Homo sapiens: one gene and its partners. The protein of the gene in region 1 purifies or fractionates together with the protein of each later gene. This does not show direct contact. Each region holds a gene or a part of one and is shown in the gene's direction. Other genes may lie near its edges.

Region 1 (3,650 bases):
TTGCCCTGTCACCCAGGCTGGATTGCGATGGCACGATCTCGGCTCACTGCAACCTCCGCCTCCTGGGTTTAACCTCCTGCCTCAGACTCCCAAGTAGCTGGGATTACAGGCACCCGGCACCACGCCCGGCTAATTTTTTGTGTCTTTAGTAGAGACAGGGTTTCACTATGTTGGCCAGGCTGGTCTCAAACTCTTGACCTCGTGATCTGCCCGCCTTGGCCTCCCCAAGTGCTGGGATTACAGGCGTGAGCCACTGTGCCCAGTCCCACTTTTTTTTTTTTTTTGAGACGGAGTTTCACTCTTGTTGCACAGGCTAGAGTGCAATGGCACGATCTTGTCTCACTGCAACCTCCGCTTCCTGAGTTTAAGCAATTCTCCTGTCTCAGCCTCCTGAGTAGCTGGGATTACAGGCACCCACCACTACACCTGGCTAATTTTTGGTATTTTTAGTAGAGATGAGGTTTCACCATGTTGGCCAGGCTGGTCTTGAACTCCTGACCTCAGGTGATCTGCCCGCCTCAGCCTCCAAAAGTGCTGGGACTACAGACGTGAGCCACTGGTGCCCGGCCTGACATATATCTTGAGTAAAAGAGCCTGTGCTGGGCTCTGGGGATGCAGCTGTGAATGTAATCACTGCTGAAGTCCCGTGGGGGAGATAGACACCAAACACACCCACCAGAAAATGAACACAATCATATCAGAGGAGACACAGCAGGTTGCGTTCATCCGCTGCATGGAGTCCACCTCCCCGGCACCCACCCTCACTTCCTGTTTGCAGACACTTCCTTGGGTTTTTCCTCCAGCAGGGAAGTGGCTCTGTCTGGTGAGGCTGCTGTGCTGTCTTCCACAGAAGTGACTGAGAGCTGAGAGGCTGGGGAACTGGGGAACCAGAGTTGCAGGGGCTACAAAGTGACTCGGTTCTGAGTGAGGTCACTGGGCATTCCCATGCAAGGACCTCCCTTGCAGGTAGCTGGGCCTCCCCTTCTGCAGAGATGAGATAGGCCTAGAGAGGGGAAGCAAGGAGCTCAAGATCACACAGCAGACAAACTGAACAGCTGGGTTGAGAATCCAGGTGTCCTGAATCCAACGCTGGATTCCTGCTGTCCCTGGGTCTGAGTAGAGCCCATTTCAGCCCCTCCCTCCTGCCTCTGCTGTCGGTCTAGACAGTTCTGGCCCAACTCTTTTTTTTTTTTTTTTGATACAGAGTTTTGCTCTTGTTGCCTAGGCTGGAGTGCGATGGCGCGATCTCGGCTTACTGCAACCTCTGCCCTCGGGGTTCAAGTGATTCTCCTGCTTCAGCCTCCTGAGTAGCTGGGATTACAGGCATGCACCAACATGTCCGGCTAATTTTTGTATTTTTAGTAGAGATGGGGTTTCGCCACTTTGGCCAGGCTGGTCTCAAACTCCTGACCTCAGGCGATCCACCTGCCTCGGCCTCCCAAAGTGGTAGGATTACAGGCATGAGCCACTGCGCCCGGCCCTGGCCCAACTCTTTAAAGTGTTTTATGAAGTCAGAGGTTTCTTTTCTTTTCTTTCTTTTTTTTTTTTGAAATGGAGTTTCACTCTTCTTGCCCAGGCTGGAGTGCAATGGCGCGGTCTCAGCTCACTGCAACCTCTACCTCCCGGGTTCAAGCGATTCTCCTGTTTTAGCCTCCCAAGTAGCTGGGATTACAGGCACCCGCCACCACACCCGGCTAATTTTTGTAGTTTTAGTAGAGACGGGGTTTCACCATGTTGGCCAGGCTGGTCTCGAATTCCTGACCTCAGGTGATCCACCCACCTCAGCCTCCCAAAGTGCTGGGATTACAGGCATGAGCCACTGCACCCAGCCATCTTTTCTTTCATTATATATATATATGTATATATATACATGCATATACATATATATGTACATATATTATGTGTATATATGCGTGCGCGCACACACACACACACGCACATATATGTGTATTTTTTTTGAGACAGGGTTTTACTCTGTTGTGTTGCCTAGGCTGGAGTGCAGTGGCATGATCACAGCTCAATGCGTCCTCAACCTTCCTGGGCTGCGGTGATCCTCCTATCTCAGCCTACTGAGAAGCTGGGACTACTGGTGCATGCAACCACACCCAGCTAACTTTTATATTTTTTGTAGAGGTGGAGTATCACCATGTTACCCAGGTTGGTCTTGAACTCCTAAGCTCAAGGGATCTACCCTTCTCGGCCTCCCAAAGTGCTGGGATTACAGGCATGAGCCACTATGCCCAGCCATAAATAAATAACTTTAGGAAAAAAAGAAAAAATAGCCGGGTGAAGTGGCTCATGCCTGTAATCCCAGCACTTTGGGAGGCCGAGGCAGGTGGATTGCTGTTGAGACCAGACTGGGCAACATAGCAAGAACCTGTCTCTACCAAAATAAAAATAAAAAAATTAACCAGGCATAGTGGTGGCACACCTGTAGTCCTAGCTACATGGGAGGTTGAGATGGGAGGTTTGCTTGAGGCCAGGAGTTTGAGGCTGCGGTGAGCTATGATCACGCCAGTGCACTGCAGCCTGGGCAACAGAGCGAGACCCCATCCCTAAACAGAAAAAATAAACAAGAAAATTTAGAACATGGCAAAAGCAGAAAAATTAAAATAATGTCTTATACCCCTTCCCCCTGATGTAACACTAGGGATTAAAATAATTGAACAAATAACATTATGTATATTTTAATAGAAAACAAAATGAAAGTATTTCCAGACCCCAGAGGCTCTGGTGAGAGGCAGTCTAAGGTTGGGGTTAAGAGCATGGACTCAAAATTTTCACTCTGCCATTTCCTCTTTGGGTGACCATGGGTCAGTTATTTAACCACTCTGCCTCAGTTTCCCTTTTGCAGTGAGGATAGGAATAACACCCATCTCACAGGGTTGACTTGAGGAGTAAATGAGGAAATGTATAAACCAGTGTTTGGCACCTATTTAGATTAGTATTCTTTTTTTTTTTTTTTTTTGAGACAGAGTCTCGCTGTGTCATCCAGGCTGGAGCTCAGTGGCACAACCTTGGCAGACTGCAGCCTCTGCCTCCCATGTTCAAGCGATTCTCATGCCTCAGTCTCCCAAGTAGCTGGGATTACAGGTGCGCACCACCACGCCTGGCTTAATTTTTGTATTTTTAGTAGAGATAGGGTTTCACTATGATGGCCGGTCTGGTCTGGGATTTCTGACCTCAAGTGATCCACCCACCTTGGCCTCCCAAAGTGCTGGGATTACAGGTGTGAGCCACTGCGCCCAGCCAAGATTAGTATTCTTACTACTTCTTATTTCACTGATTAGCGTTTAGCTGGATTCCTTAGAATCGCAATTCAGCCTTAGCCTGCGGCCTTCCTTGTGGCCAAACCTGAATCTCTCTCTACTGAGCTCATCTCTGGGACTCTGCGGGGTGGGTGGGGTGTGGGCAGCTGTTGGTGGTACGCAGCTCATTCGTTGGCCCTCTCTGGGCAGCCTGGTGGGCAGGGGCAGCCCTGGTGGGCACAGCTTACCGTGCTGAGTGTGGGCATGGGCACTCCCTCGCCCTGCAGGGATTCTCATTGATAAAGGTACAGTTTGTGGCAGACAGTCCTTTGTTATGCTGCCTGTATTTTCAGCCTCGCAATGTATTTTCATACCTTCTCTAATAAATCTGCCTTTTGTAAT
Region 2 (3,650 bases), on another chromosome or scaffold:
CCAAATCTGGCCACAGTGGCCAGATTCCAGAGAGCTGTCCAAGGCCTGTTCTGGCTGTGGCTTCTGGTTTCTGCCAGGAGGGCAGTTGGCAGGAGGGGCCAAGGCCCTGCAGGCCTGGTCAGCACCAGCACAGATGACCAGGCCTCTGACTGCAGATCCCTGTGGGGATCCAAGCATCCCTGGTTTTTCACCCTTTAGCTCCCCAGTTTTTCCTACAAGGGGACAGCTCTGCTCTTCCCCTCCCCGTCTGTTCCCATGGTCCCTGCTCCTCTGAGGGACTGGCTTTCTCCTGCAGGGACACTGCAGGGCAGGAGAGATACCAGACCATCACAAAGCAGTACTATCGGCGGGCCCAGGTAAGCCACCACATTGGGGGTTTCAAAGTGGGAAGCTGCCACCCACACTCCCAGCTCTGGGTATTTGAGATGTCTGTGCCACGGATCCCCTAAATACAGTTCGCCTGCTTGGAGGAGCGCAGGGCGTCTTTCAGCTGTTCACTGATCATTTGTCCGTCCATTGTTCATGGCCCACTCACTGCAGGCAGGCCCCTGCCCTCACCCCTGACTTCCACCCTCCATCCTGGGTCAAAGATCCAGGTCAAAGCATGTGGTGTCTTCCTGCTGTAGAGAGTTCTGTGATGGGCCTGGGAGGCGGCAGTGGTGGGGTCTGAGAGAAGAGATATTTCTGGATGCTGAGCAGGGAGAATGGGAGAGTGGGACCCAACCTTTAAGTTTCCACGGCCCCTTCTGGCCCCATGACTGCACTCTCTCTGTGCATATCACATCTCTCTATTTCTCTCTCTCTCAGGGGATATTTTTGGTCTATGACATTAGCAGCGAGCGCTCTTACCAGCACATCATGAAGTGGGTCAGTGACGTGGATGAGGTAGGAGATGCCACCTCACTGCCGGGGTGTGGAGAGGGTGCCTCACCGGGGAAGGCAAGGCGAGGGCCAGATGGGAAGGCAAATGCTTCCAGGAAGCTTTGCCTTCCACAGCCCTGGATGAAGACCTCTGGGTGAGTAAGACATGGGGAAGAAACCGAAGCTGCCATGCCCTCACTCTCTATACCCTGCCAGGCCTCCACGGCTGTGTCTTTCCCGGAAATGAATTAGTTCCAAGTCTTCCCTGTGAGCAGCTTCTTTCCTGAAATCTTGGGACCAGGTGGAGTTGCAAGATTGGGATCTAGTCCTGGCTCTGCACAATAGCTGTGGAGCCTTGGGAAGCCATTTGAATCCTCTGGGTCCCCAGTTCCTGTAGAATGAGGGCTGGACTTACATCCAATGTCCTTTCCAGCTCTGATACCAGTGGTCTAACCCAAGGAAGCACCAGTCTTAGCCAGAGTGTCTTCTACCCTAAGCTCTCCCCGTGATACCCTTGAGGTCAGCCATGGCACTTGGGGGAGCCTGGCACCTGCATCCAGTCGGCCCACCCTGTCCCTAGGGCTCTGGAATTGGTGGTGGGCTGGAGGCAGTGCAGACTCTGTAGGGAAAATTGGGGGGGCAGGCAGCACTCACTGGCTGTTCTGCCCATCCTTTGTCCCTAGTACGCACCAGAAGGCGTCCAGAAGATCCTTATTGGGAATAAGGCTGATGAGGAGCAGAAACGGCAGGTGGGAAGAGAGCAAGGGCAGCAGGTAAGTGGAGGGAAAAGGCAAGTCCACCCCAGGTCCTCTGCTGGGCCTCCAGGGCCAGTCCTGAGCGTGGGGACCTAGGGGTGTGTTCCCCAGTGGCAGGTCCTCCCACACGTCCCCAGCACCCCAAGGCCCTGGGGGAGTGGCCATCCTCGGAAGGCTTGTTGTCTGGGTTTCAGGACAGAAGCCCAGAGATTCGGGGTCCATCCAGAAACAAAGACGTCATAGGCAGCAACTCTCCCAAGTCCAGGTCCCCAAATGCAGGATTGCCCTCTGCTTAAGAGATCATCCCCGTGTTAGTAATGAAGGACTTCAAGTTGTCAACCTCTTCTCTGACAGCATCCAGGCCTAGCTGCCATGTTACGGTCGAGAAATGATCTCCCATCCCACCCAACACTCCCCCACTCCTGTCCTTCTTACCCAGGAAAGAGCCAGGGAGGCAAATGAGGAGACAAAGAGCCACAGCTGGAGAAGCCATGGGGGCAGAAAGGGTAGGAGGATGACGCTGAGGGAATGTCCAAGCATGCAGGGAGACCATCCTCCCAGAGAGCAGAAAGAAATATTGGTTATTTTTTTTTTCTTTCTTTCTTTTTTTTTTTTTTTTTGAGATGGAGTCTCGCTCTGTCACCCAGGCTAGAGTGCAGTGGCGCCATCTCGGCTCACTGCAACCTCTGCCTCCTGAGTTCAAGCAATTCTTCTGCCTCAGCCTCCCAAGTAGCTGAGATTACAGGTGCATGCCACCACGCCTGGCTAATTTTTTTGTATTTTTAGTAGAGATGGGGTTTTGCCATATTGGCCAGGCCGGTCTCGAACTCCTAACCTCAGGTGATCCACCTGCCTCAGTCTCCCAAAGTGCTGGGATTACAGGCGTGAGCCACTGTGCCCAGCCAAGATTGGTATTTCTGAGATAAGTTATCCACTCAGTCCGTGGACCTCAAGAGTTTTCCTCTCCCTTTTCAGTCAATAGCGTTCCATTAGTACTTAAAATGAAATTGATTGTTTGGTATAAAATATAAGACATGGTCATTGACCAATTTGAAAGTAGAGGCAAAGCCTACTAGGATAGTATTTATTGAGCACTCTATGTGTGGCACTGTGCTAAGGCAAGCGCTTTTAAGTGCACGACCCCACTGAATCATCCCACAACCATGGATGGGAGACACACTCAGTCTCCTTTAACAGAAGATAAAGCTGGGGCTTACAGAGAATGTACAACTTGTCCAAGGTCACACAGCTAGCCATCAGTGGCAGTGCTGCTATTCAGGTCTGGGACTGTGGGACTCCAGAGCCCATGTTTTTTACGAGGATGCCATACTGCCACAATGGATGGTGTCTTTATCTCCTGATATATGATTGTGTGTTGGGAGGCGTGGGGTGGCAGCTGGAAGAATGGAGAGGCATATTTGTGGAGGATCTTCCCCCATTCTCTGCTACCCTCTCTTGGAGCTCCCAGTCCCATCTGAGAAATTATCTACTCTGAGAAATCGTCACAACACAGCATGGTTGTGAGTGCAGTGGCAGAAGCCTGTGCCTGGTTGTATGGGCCCCTCCCCTGCCTTACTGACTCTCTTTCAGAAATGTCCTTCTCTTGCAGCTGGCGAAGGAGTATGGCATGGACTTCTATGAAACAAGTGCCTGCACCAACCTCAACATTAAAGAGGTGAGAGCCCTGGTGACCAGGCGCCCGCTCTCTCGGGCTGAGTCCAGCAGAGGTGGGAGGAGGAGCCATAAGATGGACCTTATCCCTCAGGCCGCTGCAGGGTTGCCAGGGGAGAGGAGGAGACACTGGACTAACCTGTGCCCTTTGGTTTCCAGTCATTCACGCGTCTGACAGAGCTGGTGCTGCAGGCCCATAGGAAGGAGCTGGAAGGCCTCCGGATGCGTGCCAGCAATGAGTTGGCACTGGCAGAGCTGGAGGAGGAGGAGGGCAAACCCGAGGGCCCAGCGAACTCTTCGAAAACCTGCTGGTGCTGAGTCCTGTGTGGGGCACCCCACACGACACCCCTCTTCCCTCAGGAG
Region 3 (3,650 bases), on another chromosome or scaffold:
GTTGAGGCCAGGGCAAGCCCTTGGAAGGTTTTAAGCCCCAGCAAGGCCAGATGAGCATTTCTGAAAAGCGTCTATAGTAGAAATGTAAAGAATGGAACCTTTAGTATTAGAGGTTGACTATCCCTTATCTGAAATGCTTGGGACCAGAAGTGTTTCAGATTTCAGATTGTTTGGGATTTTGAAATATTCTCATTATACCCAGTGGTTCAGCGTCCCTAATCCAAAAGTCCAAAATGCTCTAATGAGCCTTTCCTTTGTGCATCATGTCGTTGCTCAGAAAGTAGTTTTGGGTTTTTGGACTAGAGATATTCAGCTTGTATTATAATTGTCAAAGGAGTGATGAGTCCCAAGCCTTCCTTAGGACTATTCACTCATAGTTAATAGTGAATAGTTCCCACTATTCACTCTTCCACCCTCCTACACCCTGGCCAAATTAATTGCTTCCTGGAATCAGTATTCCCGTAGCATTCTTCACATCCTTTGTTAATTATTGTCTGTCCTAACATGGAAATGTGAGCTACAGGAGAACAAGAAGCAGGCCAGTTACTCATCTCCCCATCACCAGCACCTCTTGTGATGTGTGGTGGGTAGCAGGCCCACGCAAGCATCTGTGAGGGGAAGTGGAGAAGGAAGGAAGATGTGCATGTGCCACATGGGAAGTGCTGAACGTACTGGGGCTTTCAAACATGTTGCCTCTTCTGTCCTTCATAAAAATCCTATGTGGTGGGTAGTGTTAGCCATGTTTAACAGGTAAGGAAACTAGTCAGAAAGGTTGAGTCATCTTTAGAAGGTTCCATGCCTAATAGGTGGCGGAGCCAGGATTTGAGACAAATAGACTGATTCGAAAGGCTTTTCCATGGAACTGTAAGGTCTTCTGTGAATTGTTAACCATAAAGATTCTCTCATTTTGAAATTTCAGAAGACATGAAGTAGAAACAATCCAGGAAGGCTTTGGGAAGCTATTTGTGTGCGAGGATCAAAGTGGTAAGCAAGCCGGCCCTATTTTAGAAACTGGTTTTCCTGGGGGGTTTTCCTCTTAGTTTTTTCTGTTGCTCGTAAATAGACCTTTTCTCCAAATTTCACCCACTGGTCTTTTAAGAGCTCCAAGGTTTTTCCACCATGACTGAAGTGGCAGAAGTTCTGCCGTGATGAGTCAGGTGGAGATGAGCCGTGGAAAGGAGGGGCGTAGACGGTGGTGGCAGCAGTGCGTGTTTATGTGTAAGATGCACTGCTTCTGTAAGTCGGAGGCCCTGATTACTCATAATGAAAACCTGCATGGAAATTTGGAGTGATGTGCCAGCAAACTTATCGGTCTAGATCTGAAAAATACACTGAGGAGAAAGTACACCCGGCAACAAAGCTCGCCTTATCTGACAGCAGAAGAGCAGAGAAATCAAAAGTTTTTGAGGATTCGGTGTACACAGCCACCAGCCACAAACAGTCTTGCTGGATTATCTCGTGATCGTCAGCAGTTGTGATTTTCCCCCTTTTTACTTACATTCTTGATGGATGGAGCATTTTATATTTTTAGGTAATTGTTAAACTCAAATATACTGACTGTCATTAAAACACAAAAATTCAATATGTTAATTGTCTGTCTGCAGCCAGACTAGGAAAGGGTACATTGTTTTCAAAACTTAATAATTGAATTAAAATGTAAAAAAAACAAGGGCCTTAATGTGAAGGTGAGGGATCTGCATCTCCTAGCTACCCCTGTCTCCTATCTAGACATCTAGAGTCTCTAGATCCTGGGGTACTGGGGAGAATGGACAATGTTGCTTTCCTGTGCAAGATCCTCAGATGACATATTTTAGCCCCCAGGGCGCTCATGCCTCCATCTTCCTCCAGCCTCATGGGCATTTCCTCCCCTATGTGTACCTTTACCTTTCACCAGGCAAAGCCACCTGTGGTTCCCTTGGATTCCTCCTGCTCTGTCTTGTCTCTGTAGTGTTGCATGTACTGCAGCCCAGCCAGCTGATGTGAATCTTGCCCTGCTACTTATTATCTGTCTGACATTGAGCATGTTACTTAACCCTCTGTGCCTCGGTTTTCTCATCTGTAGAATGGAGATAATAATAGTACCTAACTCCTAGGGTTGATGTCAATATTGAGTTAATACATTAAAAGTGTTTTCTTTTGTGTGTGTGGCAGAATAAGCACCCAAATTATAGCTGTTATTGAGTACCTAGTTACTGTTCTACTGAAAGGAATGGAAAATAAATACTCGTCCCTCGAAATGTCCTTCATCCTTCCTATCTCTTCCCAGCATTCCCTATAAAACTTTCTTCGTAGAACGCCCTTCCTGGCCTCCATCTCACCTGGCTCTGATGCCTGTCATCTATACTGCGTCTCTACCTCTGCAAACATCCTGTCTGCTGCTCAGCATACTGGACTAGGCTGATGAATTGACCTGTTCTCTTCCTGCACAAGACCTTAAGCTCCATGAGGCAGGGCCATACTTGTTAAATTGATATCTTCCATGTCTAGAAGGGTTCTAGCACACACTAGACAGATGCTAGCCATAAGTCTATAATTGTCTGGGTGACCTTAGGCAAATGACTTGACCTCTCAATGCCTCAGTTTTCTCATTTGTTTGTAAAAAGGATTGATGACACTGTCTAGTTCAGAAGATGATACGAGAATTGGAAGAGGAAACTAGAGGCAGTGTCGTGTAGGGGTTAAGAGCTTAGCCTCTGGATCCAAGCCAGCTGATGTGAATCCTGCTCTGCTACTTATCTCTATGACGTTGAGCATGTTACTTGACCGTCTGTGCCTCAGTTTTCTCATCTGTAAAATGGGGATAATAATAGTACCTACCTCCTATGGTTGATGTAAATATTGAGTTAATACATAAAAATAACTTCTTTATTTTTGTGTATGTGACAGAATAAACACCCAAATTTTAGCTGTTATTAAGTACCTAGTTACTGTTCTACTGAATGGAATGGAAAATAAATACTCTATAAAGTTATTCTGCACTTGTGTATCAGGAATTTGGACATCTTGAGGCACTTTTCAGGCAGGTGTGATGGCTCTAAATGGAGGTTATAGGAAAGTTAAGTTTTAAATCCCCAATAATTTTCAGGGACAGTGAGTATTTCTCTTACAACTTAACTTTGAATGACTTTATTATTGTCCCCTAGTCCATAGATGTTTTCATCCAAAGAAGATAGAGGTCTGTGATCCAAGAAATTTGAAGCAGTGACTTAGAGCAGAAATAGGGATCATGATACTTTGAATAATGCATAAAGAAGGAAACCTTTCTAAACAAAAGGGACACAAATGTTGCTTTTTTGGCAACGGGATGCATACGGTCTGTGGAATACCATTTGCTTCAGGTCCAGGGATGTAGAAAACTCCCCTTGGTTTAGTCTTCACACTAAAGGGCCAGGACAAGCCCTTGGAAGGGAGGTTTTAGTGTGAAGTGGTTAGCCGTTACCTGTGCTTCGAGTTCTGTTTGTGTCTTAGTTTGGATTCCCCCAAAAGTAGACCCCAAGACAAGGATTCAGAGGTAGACGTTTATTTGGGAACTGATCCCAGGAAGCACAAGAAAGGAAGTAGGGACAGTAAGGCGGAGATGGAGGCTCATAAAGGGTACATTGATGAACAGGTTGCTGCTCACGTGTAGGATATCAAAACTGAATTCTTTA

What was found.
Region 2: the proteins of MICALL1 (region 1) and RAB15 purify together in Homo sapiens (affinity purification with mass spectrometry; one large-scale study listed by BioGRID and IntAct). This does not show direct contact.
Region 3: the proteins of MICALL1 (region 1) and ZBTB21 purify together in Homo sapiens (affinity purification with mass spectrometry, with the first as the bait; one large-scale study listed by BioGRID). This does not show direct contact.

Annotation. Positions count from the first base shown.
Region 1 is NC_000022.11:37,912,696-37,916,345, forward strand, and holds part of MICALL1 (MICAL-like protein 1), read left to right. Parts: intron 1-3,650. UniProt on the Homo sapiens protein: Lipid-binding protein with higher affinity for phosphatidic acid, a lipid enriched in recycling endosome membranes. On endosome membranes, acts as a downstream effector of Rab proteins recruiting cytosolic proteins to regulate membrane tubulation.
Region 2 is NC_000014.9:64,948,309-64,951,958, reverse strand, and holds part of RAB15 (ras-related protein Rab-15), read left to right. Parts: intron 1-295; coding exon 296-356; intron 357-807; coding exon 808-885; coding exon of another isoform or gene 886-1,016; intron 1,017-1,544; coding exon 1,545-1,634; intron 1,635-3,225; coding exon 3,226-3,291; intron 3,292-3,446; coding exon 3,447-3,605; 3' UTR 3,606-3,650. UniProt on the Homo sapiens protein: The small GTPases Rab are key regulators of intracellular membrane trafficking, from the formation of transport vesicles to their fusion with membranes.
Region 3 is NC_000021.9:42,000,231-42,003,880, reverse strand, and holds part of ZBTB21 (zinc finger and BTB domain-containing protein 21), read left to right. Parts: intron 1-919; 5' UTR 920-984; exon of another isoform or gene 985-1,531; intron 1,532-3,650. UniProt on the Homo sapiens protein: Acts as a transcription repressor.